3 linked regions of the Homo sapiens genome follow. The protein of the gene in region 3 purifies or fractionates together with the protein of the main gene of each other region. This does not show direct contact. Each region holds a gene or a part of one and is shown on either strand. Other genes may lie near its edges.

Region 1 (3,828 bases), on a different chromosome or scaffold from region 3:
GGGGATACCTGTGTACTGTAGTATCAGGTTTATGAGTACCTACAAATTCAAATCATTTTGCATCCTTCAATACATTTAATTTCCTCAATAAACCTGTGAGAATCATTGGTAGCTCAATTTTACAGGTGAGAAAACTGAGGCTCAGAGAAATAGCTTGCCCCAAAATACATATTTTAATGAGTAAAAGAGAAAAAAGTGAAAAAAAGAAAAGGAAAAAAGAGAAATACCAAACGCAAGTCAAATACAAGTCTGTTTGTAAAATCTAAACATGTTGCATTAAATTTTAGGTTATTATTTTTCAATAACAACAAAATCCCAAAATACTTTGTAAAATACACAGATTTTTTTAAAAGCCTTATAATAGTGAACAATAGCTACATTTCCCCCCAGAATCTATGCAAACAAGAAAACAATGAAATGACATATTTTAAAATATTTTAGGGCCAGGCACGGTGGCTCACACCTGTAATCCCAGCACTTTGGGAGGATTATCTGAGGTCAGGAGTTCAAGATCAGCCATGACCAACATAGAGAAACCCCATCTCTACTAAAAATACAAAATTATCTGGGCATGGTGGCGCATGCCTGTAATCCCAGCTACTCGGGAGGCTGAAGCAGGAGAATCGCTTAAACCCGGGAGGCGGAGGTTGCGGTGAGCCGAGATCGCGCCACTGCACTCCAGCCTGGGCAACAAAGCGAGACTCTGTCTCAAAGAAAGAAAAAAAAATTAAAAACTGTCATGGAAAGTTCTATATAGAGCCAAAATATACTTCAACAATGAAGATAAATACAGAGTTTTTCAGACAAATAAAAGCAGAGAGACTATGTTTCCAGCAGACCTGTAAGATGTATGAAAGCAGTTCTTCATGTGGAAAGAAAATATACCACATGGAAATCTGAGTCAACACAAAGAATACAGAGTGCTGAAAATATATTAGTAACAACTGAACATATTCTCTTATGTTAAAATTTCCTTGACAGACTATTTAAAGCAAAAACAGCTAACAATATATCGTGGGGTTTATAATATACAGAGAAGTAAAAGGTATGCCCACAACCAGTTTGAAGACTGGAAGGGGATGAATGGAAACACTATATTAAACATGAAATGATATAATATTTTTGGAAAATAGAAGGTTTACACTATAAAGCCTAGAGTAGGTTTTTTAACCTCAGCACTACTGATATTGTGGGCTGGAGGATTCTTTGCTGTGAGAAGCTGTCCTGTGCATTGTAGGATGTTTAGCATTCTCCCTGGGCTCTACCCACTAGATGATAGTAGCACATCCTCCAAGCTGTGACAACCCAAAATGCCTCCGGACATAGCCAAATGTCCCTTGGCACAGACAAATGTCCTTAGCCAGAGCAAAACTGTCCCAGTTAAGAACCACTGTGTTAGACTGAACAACAACAAAAAATTTAAAATATCAGAAATAAAGGAGGGAACACCATCCTTTAAGACATCAAAAAATATTATGAACAATCCAATTTTATGCCAATAAATTCAGCAACTTAAATGAAATAAACAAATTTCTTAAAATACAAATTACCAAAACAGACACAGGAGTAAACAGAACATCTATATAGCCCTACATCTATTAAAGATACTGAATTCACAATTCAAAACCTTTCCACAAAGAAAACTCAACACTGTTTGGTGAATTCTATCAAACTTGAAAGAAAATATAAATCTGTATTAGTTTTCTAGGGCTACCATAATAACATACCACAAACGAGTAGTTTAAACAACAGAAATTTATTGTCCCACTGCTCTGATAGCTAGAAGTCCAAATCAATGTGTCAGCGTGGCTGTGCTTCCCCGGAAACCTGTAGGGGGAATCTTTCCTTGCCTATTCCCAGCTTCCTGTGGTTGCCGGAAGCCCCTGGTGTGTCTTGGTTTGCAGCTGCAGCCCTGCAGTCCCTGCCTCTATCTTCACGTGACATTTTCTCCTCATGTGTGTGTCTCTTTTCTTAGGGTGGATTAGAGCTCATACTCATTGAGTATGACCTCATCTTAACGTTACATCTGCAATGACCCTATTTCCAAATAAGGTCACATTCTGAGGTACTGGGGGTTAGGGCTTCAACCATTTTTTTTTTTTTTTTGGTGGAGACGCAGGACACAATTCAACCCATTACACACCCAACCCTACGTAAACTTTCAGAACACAGAGGAAGGAATATATCTCATTCACTTTGACAGCAGCATTACCCTAAATACCAAAAACAGGTGGTCAGCCTTTTGGAACCTATTATCTTTTTCATTAACAGTGATCATTAACATGGAGCAAAGTCCAGCCTTGAAGTCTATGCTCTGGGAGGAGGGGGCAGGCGACAGATGGAGAAGCGTGTATAGTTTCAAAATCTCCACAGAGTCTTGGAGGCTACTGAAATTTCCCTTACACCTACTGGGACATTCTATTCTGCTTAAAAATGGAAAAATGATTTCAAATTAATAAAAGTTAAAGGATGGTGCCTGCTCACAACTAGTTATTTGCCTATCTTTAAAACCTTACTGTATATGAAACTTTTTTCTGAGAAGCAACAAGATCTACATGAAATCTTAATACTGACAGTCATTAGTAAATGCAATGCTTTATTTTTAAAATCGTGTCCAATTTCCATAGAGAAGGTAGTTCCCTGCACAGATGGAACAGAGCCCAAAGAAATGAAACTGGTCGGAAGGGTGCTCCCATCCCTTCCTCCAGAGATGAAATGATCCATTCAAACTAGATTTTGGAAGAAGAAACCATGGGAATTGGTGACAAGTGCATCCTGACTCTTTGTACACAGGGAATAACCCCATCCACTGACATTATAACACCTTCTGACTTTAAGGGACTTTGATATTAAAGTTGGTGGTATTTGAGATCTGGAGTTGAATGTAAGTATTACAGCAGCAATGTAGATAAGCTTTTAAAAATTACTCCCTTCCCACTGTTTTGTTCACATTACTGCCCAACATTTACCTAAGGTTTTCATATTACAACTACAACACTAAAAGACGCCATAAAAAAGAACAGTCAAGCCAAAGGGAACAATGCAGTTTCATTTCCTTAAAAACTAACAAAAGTGATTAATTACATGTTGGCAAACCAACCCTTAAAAAAATAATCAAGACAAAATGGCGCAGAGATGATTTGTGGAAAACTTGCTCTCTAAGGTCTTCCGATAACTGAACCATTTAAAATTTAGACAGACTTATTCTATAATTTCCTTCTGTTTGACGTCGGTGGAAAGGGGGCAATAAGAAGGTCATGCTGTTCTTTCCAGAGTTTTACGAAAGATTGTGGCTATCTCCATTTAAAGAACATTTAGATAATTATAATGTTATTCTATTCATCTTATTCCTCTCCCCAGAACATGTTATTTTACAGCTTCTATATATAAGATGTAAAACAGTTTTTCCACTAAAACATATATGAATGTGACTTGTCAAAAAGTATGTAAGTAAAATTCCTTTTTTCTTTTAGTGCAGCATTAACTAAAGATGGAGCTACTGAATTAAGACATTTCCAGTGATTACTTCAGGAACTTACAATGCAAGGCTCACTTCAGTAAACTATAAACTGAAAGGAAAATAATTCCATTCAATTGTAAATTATCTTATCTGACCACAGTGGAAGCATCATCAGGTGGTCCATGGCTAGGCCTTTCTGTTCATATTAGAAACCTAATATCCCTTTCTCACATAAAGACATGGCTGCAGATTACCAAAGTGCAATTAAATGAACCTGGGTTAAGTGTTTTATAAGAAGGAGAAGAATTATCTGGGGTGCTTGCTAAAAAGTCCAGTTCCTCTGTCCTATCTTAATAATTCTGAAGCCT
Region 2 (3,828 bases), on a different chromosome or scaffold from region 3:
GCTTGTCTTATCACACTGTCTTCCAGCAGTGCAGGAGAATTGAGGTTCCTGATGACGTCGACAAAGCCAGGAAGGCTCCCCGTCATCAATGCCTGCAGTCAGAAAATGCAAGAATTAGGCCACTGAATCCAAAACCGGAGCATGAAAAGGGCACTGAAGATTTTTTTTTTTTTTTTTGAGACAGGGTCCCTCTCTGTTGCTCAGGATGGAGTGCAGTCATGCAATCAGGGATCACTGCAGCTTTGAACTCCTGGGCCCAAGCGATCCTCCCACCTTGGCCTCCCAAGTAGCTGGAACTACAGGTGTGTGGCACCACACCCAGCTTTTTTTTTTTTTTTTTTTTTTTTTTTGGTAGATACAGGGTCCCGCTATGTTGCCCAGGCTGGTCTGAAGATTTTTTATGGATAAAATAGGTGAGCATAAAGCTAGGGCATCCCTAGTACTGGTGGCTGGGTCAATGTTAGGACAGTAATTAGGGTAAAGAAGAGAAAGAGGCACATAGATTCTGGTGAAAAACTGTAAACTCAATAGTAACAAAGATAACCATATTAAAGGACATTCATGGCTCCTAATAATCTTTCCAGCTGACAAGAGGTTAAAGGAGGCGGCTAGGGATAGCGAGACGACGGCAACAGCCAGAGAAGCAGCTATGGGTTTGCGATGTAGCTGAAGCAAACGGCAAAGTGAGGTATACATTAGAAACATTAACCTGTGTATTCAAAGCCTCTGCCAGGTCCCAATTAAGATTCAAATCTCCACGTGACAAGCAAAGTCCATACGACTCCTAACAATCCAGCAATTCCAATGTCTACCTTTGAGTGGAAAACCAGGATGAAAGCAGTCCTAAAGCGTGAACTTTCAGCAATTTGCAAAGTGAACTGGGGGCCAGGGAGGCCACTGGGATAGTCTCTTCTGCTCCCACCCTCAATGTTGCCCCATATTTTCTGGGAGGGGTGGGAGGTGACTTGCCCTTATACCCTTCTGATAATAGAATTGAGTCAAGAATTTCCCTGAGTTTAGCATAGAACCTAAGAGGCCATGGTAATGGGTAACAGATCTCTGTGATTTAGAGTTATACAGCCACCCCAGCCAGCACTGGCATCCTGGAACCTGTGCAATGAAAATAAACGGGAACCTGGGTAACATCAGCAGGTGAAATAATTTTACCGAGACATCTTTAACGATAAATAAATGCAAGTATGAATTATCCAGACTTCTGGAATGCCACAGGGAGGAGCTCGGCAAAATCTCTCTCCCAGGAGCAATAATAAAACTGGATGAAACTGTCAAAAGCAACCATTTTAGTACTTTGGAAATTCACCAAAATTATAGAACAGATTGAGAAGTGCTTATTTAAGAAAAAACACGGAATCTCAGTAAGAACAGCAAGTGCCCATGGTGTTTCTACACAGGGCGGCTCCCACTTCCCTCCTTTCCAGCTCCACGCTGCAGCAGCCACTGAGAAGCCCCACACCCAGGGAGGTTATGAAAACACATCAGGGGTGCTGAAGCACAACCTCTGACCAATCAGTGGCTGACCACTAAGCTATGCGGAGCCAGGGCCAGCACTCAGGAAGACAGGCTTAAAGATAAAAACAAGAACTTAAAAACCAAAAGAACCAAAAGACCTAAGTCAAAACATCAGTTGCCGCACGCTCCCGGGGAGACAGACTGCAGGAACTCACTATACAAACAACCAAAATAACCCTAACAGCCACCAACATTCCTAGGGTGGGGCCAGAATTGAGCTGAGGTGGGGTTTGCCTGGATACACACATTTGTTAAATGCTGTACATGCAAAAATGTAATTGTATAAAAATTATATTTCAATAGTTATTTTTTAAAATGTGAACCTCACCCCAAAATTGTACTCCTTAAAAGGCAGCCAATTACTCTTGGTGAGTATCCTTTTGGACTCTTTTCTGTGTGTGTGTGTGTGTGTGTGTGTGTGTGTGTGTGTGTGTATAAAATCACAAATATATGAAGGTACACATTTTTTACCAAAATGGTAGCAAACTATACAAATTACTCTCAAACTTCTTCAATTAATAACACATCATGAACATCTTTACCTAGGGAAAACACAAGCATTTTATCTTTTTTCCAAACAGCTACAGAGCATTCCAGTGTGTAGCTGTACAATAACGTATTTAACCAAGACCATTTTACTGGGCATTTATTTTAAACAGCTTCCTATGGAAGTGCCACTTGAGCTGAGACCTGAAGGTTGAAAAGTTGTGGAGGTGAGGTGGGACTTTCCAGAGTAAAACACCTGCAAACTGCAAAGGCTCCAGGCAGAAAAGACAGCAGCACCCGGGAGGAAATGAGCTGCGTGTGACCTGTGTGGATGAAGGGCAAGGGAACACGGAAGGGGGCCTATATGAGGATGAAGAGGTAAACGGGAGTGAGGCCACGCAGAGCCTTGAGGGACGGGTGATGGGGTTCAGTGTTCAAACTGGGCAGAGCGTAAACTACTGAAGGGTTTTAAAGAGTAGTGTAGCAGGGTCTGATTTGTGTCCAGAAGTGATTTGGGCCAAGAAAAGGTGCTAGGGCATTTATAACAGTTCAGGCTGGAGCCCACAGCAGCCTGGACGACGGTGGTGGCAGTGGAGATACCAGCTCAGTCAACCTGTATTCACATCCACAGTATTTCAAGAGCACCTGTTCACCTCGTTTCTTGTGCGGGGTAGAGATCATCAATCTTTAAATTTTTACAATATGATAAACAAAAACTGGCATATGGGTTGTTTTGTTTGCCCTGCTCTGATTACTAGTCAAGAATCTCTGCATATGCTTATTGGCCATTCCGCTTTCTTCCTTGGTGGATTCCGTTATATACTCGGCCCAGTTTCCATAGGACTGTCCCTCCTTGATCCGAACCTCTTTATACATCATGGACTTAACATCTTGTATGCCATGTCCACTGTCAATAATTTCTTCAGTTTATCATGTTGTTGACTTTGTTTACAACATTTGACAATATAAAAGTTTTCTGTTTTCATCCCTTCTTTTGTGGCTTTTACAAGGCACCTCCCTCATCCTCACACTAGCTTGGGTTCCCACCGATATTTTTAAAGAGGGTAGGGACTACTTGGCATCCCCTCATCCCAGAAAGCGTGCAGACAGCGAGTGGGCTGCATTTACAGTCCTAAGAAATCTAAGGGAAAGCTCAGGTCTGTCAATCAATGCCAGCTATTATTATGACCAGAAAGTTCTTTAAGAAAGAAAAGGCATTCAAAAATGAGTTACATGACTTTAAAACAAAGCTGCTGCAGGGTCTTAGCAAGTGAAAGCACACTGGACATGTCAGGGTTGGCGTCTGGTTACAAATGTATCAACACCAGGAGATGCTCTGAGCCCTTTCTCAGACTGGAGGCAGGGCAGGGGACACTTTCCTCAACCAACACTGCCCAACCCCAACCTACCAAACTCCAGAGCTGTACAATCCTAACTCCAGTATGGGCTTTCTGTTCTAGCTCCTCCCTGATGGGGAAATAAGGAGCAAGAATCCTCAAAGGACTGAAAATGAAACAAAACACTAGCTCTGGGGTGAGGCTCCCCAGCAAAGGTGAAATAAAACCAATAAGCTGGAGACAGAGGCCCCAAGAACCACAGTGCCAACGGACTGGTCTGAATAGAACCTAGAACCTGCACAATCACTTATACATTTTCTCAAATCTGCCTGTTAAATCTTAAAAGAAAAGGAGAAAAGGGTTCCTTCCACACTTCTGATAGAGCAGATAAAGAAACCGGTGTTCCTGAAAATCAGGGGCTGGATGTCTTTCTTCCAGATTCCCACAGCTAGTTTCAGCAGGACGGCAAAAACTC
Region 3 (3,600 bases):
GAACTGCATCCGAGTGTTCCCTAGGGGTTTGTTTCTCAGACTTTGTGGAATTATCATCTATGGACTTGCCTGATGTAACTGTTAGGAGAGCAGGGTCAATTCTACAACACTGACAAAGATCTGGGTTGTCTCGCAAGGCAAAGAAGGCTTGCACATAAGGAACCTCGGACCATTTGCCCTCCTGTCTGCAGAAAACATCTAGTTGTTGAATAGTATTAATATTAACACTTCCCTCAGGAGGCCAAGCCTCCCCATCCTGCAGCTGGTAAGACGGCCATGCCCGAGTGCAAAAGAATATGAGGTGCTCTTTCTTCAGAGTCTGAGTGTCAAAGGAGTTCCAGTGTTTCAGAATGCACTTGAGAGGAGTATAGGCTGAAGATGATTTGTTACATATCTAGAAAAAGAGGAGAGAAAAGGCATCCCTTAGTCTCCTTTGTCCTTCTGGAGTGATCGACAGCAGAGAGAAAAATGGAAGGGGCGTCCCCCTTCTCCTCTTCCCTCCCATTTCCTCAGGTTCCTGGTGACCATTATAGGTGCTGCCCATGGATCAAAGCATGACCTTCACCCATGAATCCGGAGGAGCTAGCTTGTGCTCACCTGCACAAGGTCCTAGCTCTCTGCCCTGCTGGTTTCCTAGACCTACTTGGCCCATAAGGCTCCTGAGATTCCCTAGAACCATGGGAGAGATTGTGCAGTAGTTGGATTGGGGCAAGACCCTTTAAGGAAGGGAACATCTTAACTCTATCCTTACATCCTCTTACTACCACCCTGGCAAAGTTATGAATTCCTAGAGAATGAGACTGATTGATTTCTAAACACAAGATCCCTTTCTCACTTAGATGCCAGTGTAGCTGTGTACAGAACAGATGCCTCAAAAGAATGTAAAAATTGAATGGCTGTTCTCCCTCCAATGGGGATAACACTGAGGCTAAAATATGTCTTCCCAGGGTAGCTTCTTCCTGGCTGTTGAAAGAGGAGTTTTTATGCTTACAAATAGGGCATGGGGCCTGATCACTGAAAGAGGGACATAAGAGAGAAAGGAATCAGGGAACTAGAGGTTTTGGGCAAAGGGCTGACAAGGCTTCTCACAGAGAAAAATCCCATCCCACTAGGTAGCACTATAGGGTTTGAAATGTTAGGAAAAAACTCTGACTACAAATTCTTTCCAAGCAGAGGTCAGAAAGGGAGGTTTGGGGCTTAATAGGCTGTCCCCATAATATGCTGTCCAGTAGAAAAAAAACTAGTTTGTCTCATAGAGGGAATGCTTAAATTCATTGGGCAATGCTGAGCTCTTACATGAAGGAAAAACAACCTGATGGAGAAAAGGGTATTCACTTGGGGTGAAACATCCCCCTATAGAGTGCCATGAATGTCTATCACTGGGGGACAAAAAGGCCCTAAGTGAAAATTTAGGCTGAAATCTTGAAGTCCCCCTGTCTCAAGGAAATCACAAAAACAACAATTATTTGAGTTACATTCCTCGTTACTAAGGCACTTGCTGACTTTGCTTAACAGGATTATCTCCCCAGGCTATAAAGACACCCACAACATTGCATACAAAGAAGGAATAGGAGACATAGTAGCTGCGAAAAGCAAGGAAGAAAATGCAATAGAAAAGTCTGGAAGTCCTGGTGCCAACATTCTGACGGGCTGTCGGGGGCTGGAGTTAGTCCAGGGACCTTCAGGTAACACTGAGGAGTAGCCTCAAACAGAAACCTTCAGTTGCCCCAGGACCTCCTTCTAGCCCATGTGACAGCTAAGTCCTCTGTGAAAGGAAACTGGATTAGAACAGAGCCAACATTCCCAACACCTGAGGGTGAAGGGGGACTGACAAAGTCCTCTCCAGCAAGCCTGTATCTTAAGTCTCATAAGGTTGGCAGCCGCTCTAAAAGCTTTTAACTGGCCCAGTGTTTTGTTCAGTCTTCAGGAAAAAATCTGAGGACAAGAAGCCTCTGAAATGAAAGTAAAGAGTTTGGAGGTCCGCTCCTACTCACCCTTCCAATGTTTCCTGGCCAATGCACCAAAATGTTAGTCTCGTCAATGCACCACAATGTAGCAGTCTCTCATTGCCCAAGGTATCACCTGAAGTTCTTTGTCTCATGACCAAGAAAATTAAGGAGCGCGGACCCCAAAGATGAAGTTGAAGTGAAAGTTTAATAAGCAAAAGAAGAAAGCACTCCACTGCAGAGAGGGGGCCCAAAAGAGGGTTGCCATTTCACAGCTGAATACAAAGGCATAAGGCACACATTTCTGGTAGCTCCACCCCATCCTCGTAGTGTGCATGCAAGCCCTTAGCTTGAGTTACTCCATGTGGCTTTGTTCCCCTTACTGTGCATGTGTCAGGGGATGGAATTTTCTATTGTGAGCATGTCTAGGCAAGTCTCCTGTGTAGCCTTGTTTTAATGTATGTGGCTGTGGGCATGTTTTAGGCAAGCCCCCCTGTACAAGTTCCCTTATCTGCAGTTTGATTTTTCAGGCTGTTCTTTTGTTTGAAGGAATTTGACTGAGGGCCCACCCTAACTGCCTGCCTGACTAGTTTCTTCCTTCCTCCTCTCTCAATAGCACCTGAATATCAGAACCAGAGAAAGGCAAGAAATATGACAACAGTCACAAATACCACAAGAAACATTTGAAAACCACTTTTTATCCAGTTTTCTCATGGCCTAGATCCAACAGGAATAAGTCCCGTGAATCTAAATGGCCAACTTTAGATAAAGGGCCATTTTTCTTAATTGACTGATTATTCCACTTCTCCTAAATTATTTATAATGAGATGTACTGGCTGTTGTGCAGATTTTGCCTTGACAGGCCCATAAATAATTGAGGGCCCTTTTATTATCTAAAACTATTTTAACCAACACATTTACATAGGTCTCTTGGGCCTCTAAAGCTTGAGCTGTTTTATTTACTATTTGGGCCATAGTCAGGGATAAAAATGTTTAGAAACATGTTTTAGTTTAGAAATACCTAGTGAGGGTTAGAAATTCTTAGTCAAACTAGTGAGATCTGGTGGTCAGTTATTGATCAGATAAAATATGAGGAATTCCCCTCTCTAAGCCATAGTTTCTAAATGTGTGAGAAAAACAAGCAGTCCACACATAGTTCAGGGCCTGGTCTGAACACTAAAGTCTGGTTCATTCACAGAGATATAATACTTGTTTAGTATGGAGAAAGAGAGGGAGGCTTTACAACACATCACCCCAGAGTCACAAACCACCATACAGAGGTCAGATGGTATGTGACAGCTAGGTCCTCTGTGATAGGAAACTGGATTGGAACACAGCCAACATTCCCAACACCTGATGGTGAAGAGGGACTGACAAAGTCCTTTCCAGCAGGCCTGTCCCTTGAGGCTTGTAAGGTTGGCAGCAGCTGCTCTAAAAGCTTTTTACTAGCCCAAGACACAGGGCTGAACTTTGCTTTGGAGCCCCTTACCTTTTTCCAAGGAATCAAAACAATTAATAAAACCAGTCCAACACCAATGAATGAAATAGGCCACCAATGAATGGAAAAATTATCTGTCTTCTCAGTTTCTGCAGAGAGAGAAGGAAAACATTAGCAGGAAACCTACTGGCAAGGGCCAGAGAAACCACACAACTG

The links.
Region 1: the proteins of NCR3LG1 (region 3) and RYK purify together in Homo sapiens (affinity purification with mass spectrometry; 4 studies listed by BioGRID and IntAct, with this or other methods). This does not show direct contact.
Region 2: the proteins of NCR3LG1 (region 3) and PIGG purify together in Homo sapiens (affinity purification with mass spectrometry; 2 studies listed by BioGRID and IntAct, with this or other methods). This does not show direct contact.

Annotation. Positions count from the first base shown.
Region 1 is NC_000003.12:134,160,145-134,163,972, forward strand, and holds part of RYK (tyrosine-protein kinase RYK isoform 2 precursor), read right to left. Parts: intron 1-3,828. UniProt on the Homo sapiens protein: May be a coreceptor along with FZD8 of Wnt proteins, such as WNT1, WNT3, WNT3A and WNT5A. Involved in neuron differentiation, axon guidance, corpus callosum establishment and neurite outgrowth.
Region 2 is NC_000004.12:501,982-505,809, reverse strand, and holds part of PIGG (GPI ethanolamine phosphate transferase 2, catalytic subunit), read right to left. Parts: intron 93-3,828; coding exon 1-92.
Region 3 is NC_000011.10:17,368,800-17,372,399, reverse strand, and holds part of NCR3LG1 (natural cytotoxicity triggering receptor 3 ligand 1 precursor), read right to left. Parts: intron 3,534-3,600; coding exon 3,436-3,533; intron 395-3,435; coding exon 1-394. UniProt on the Homo sapiens protein: Triggers NCR3-dependent natural killer cell activation.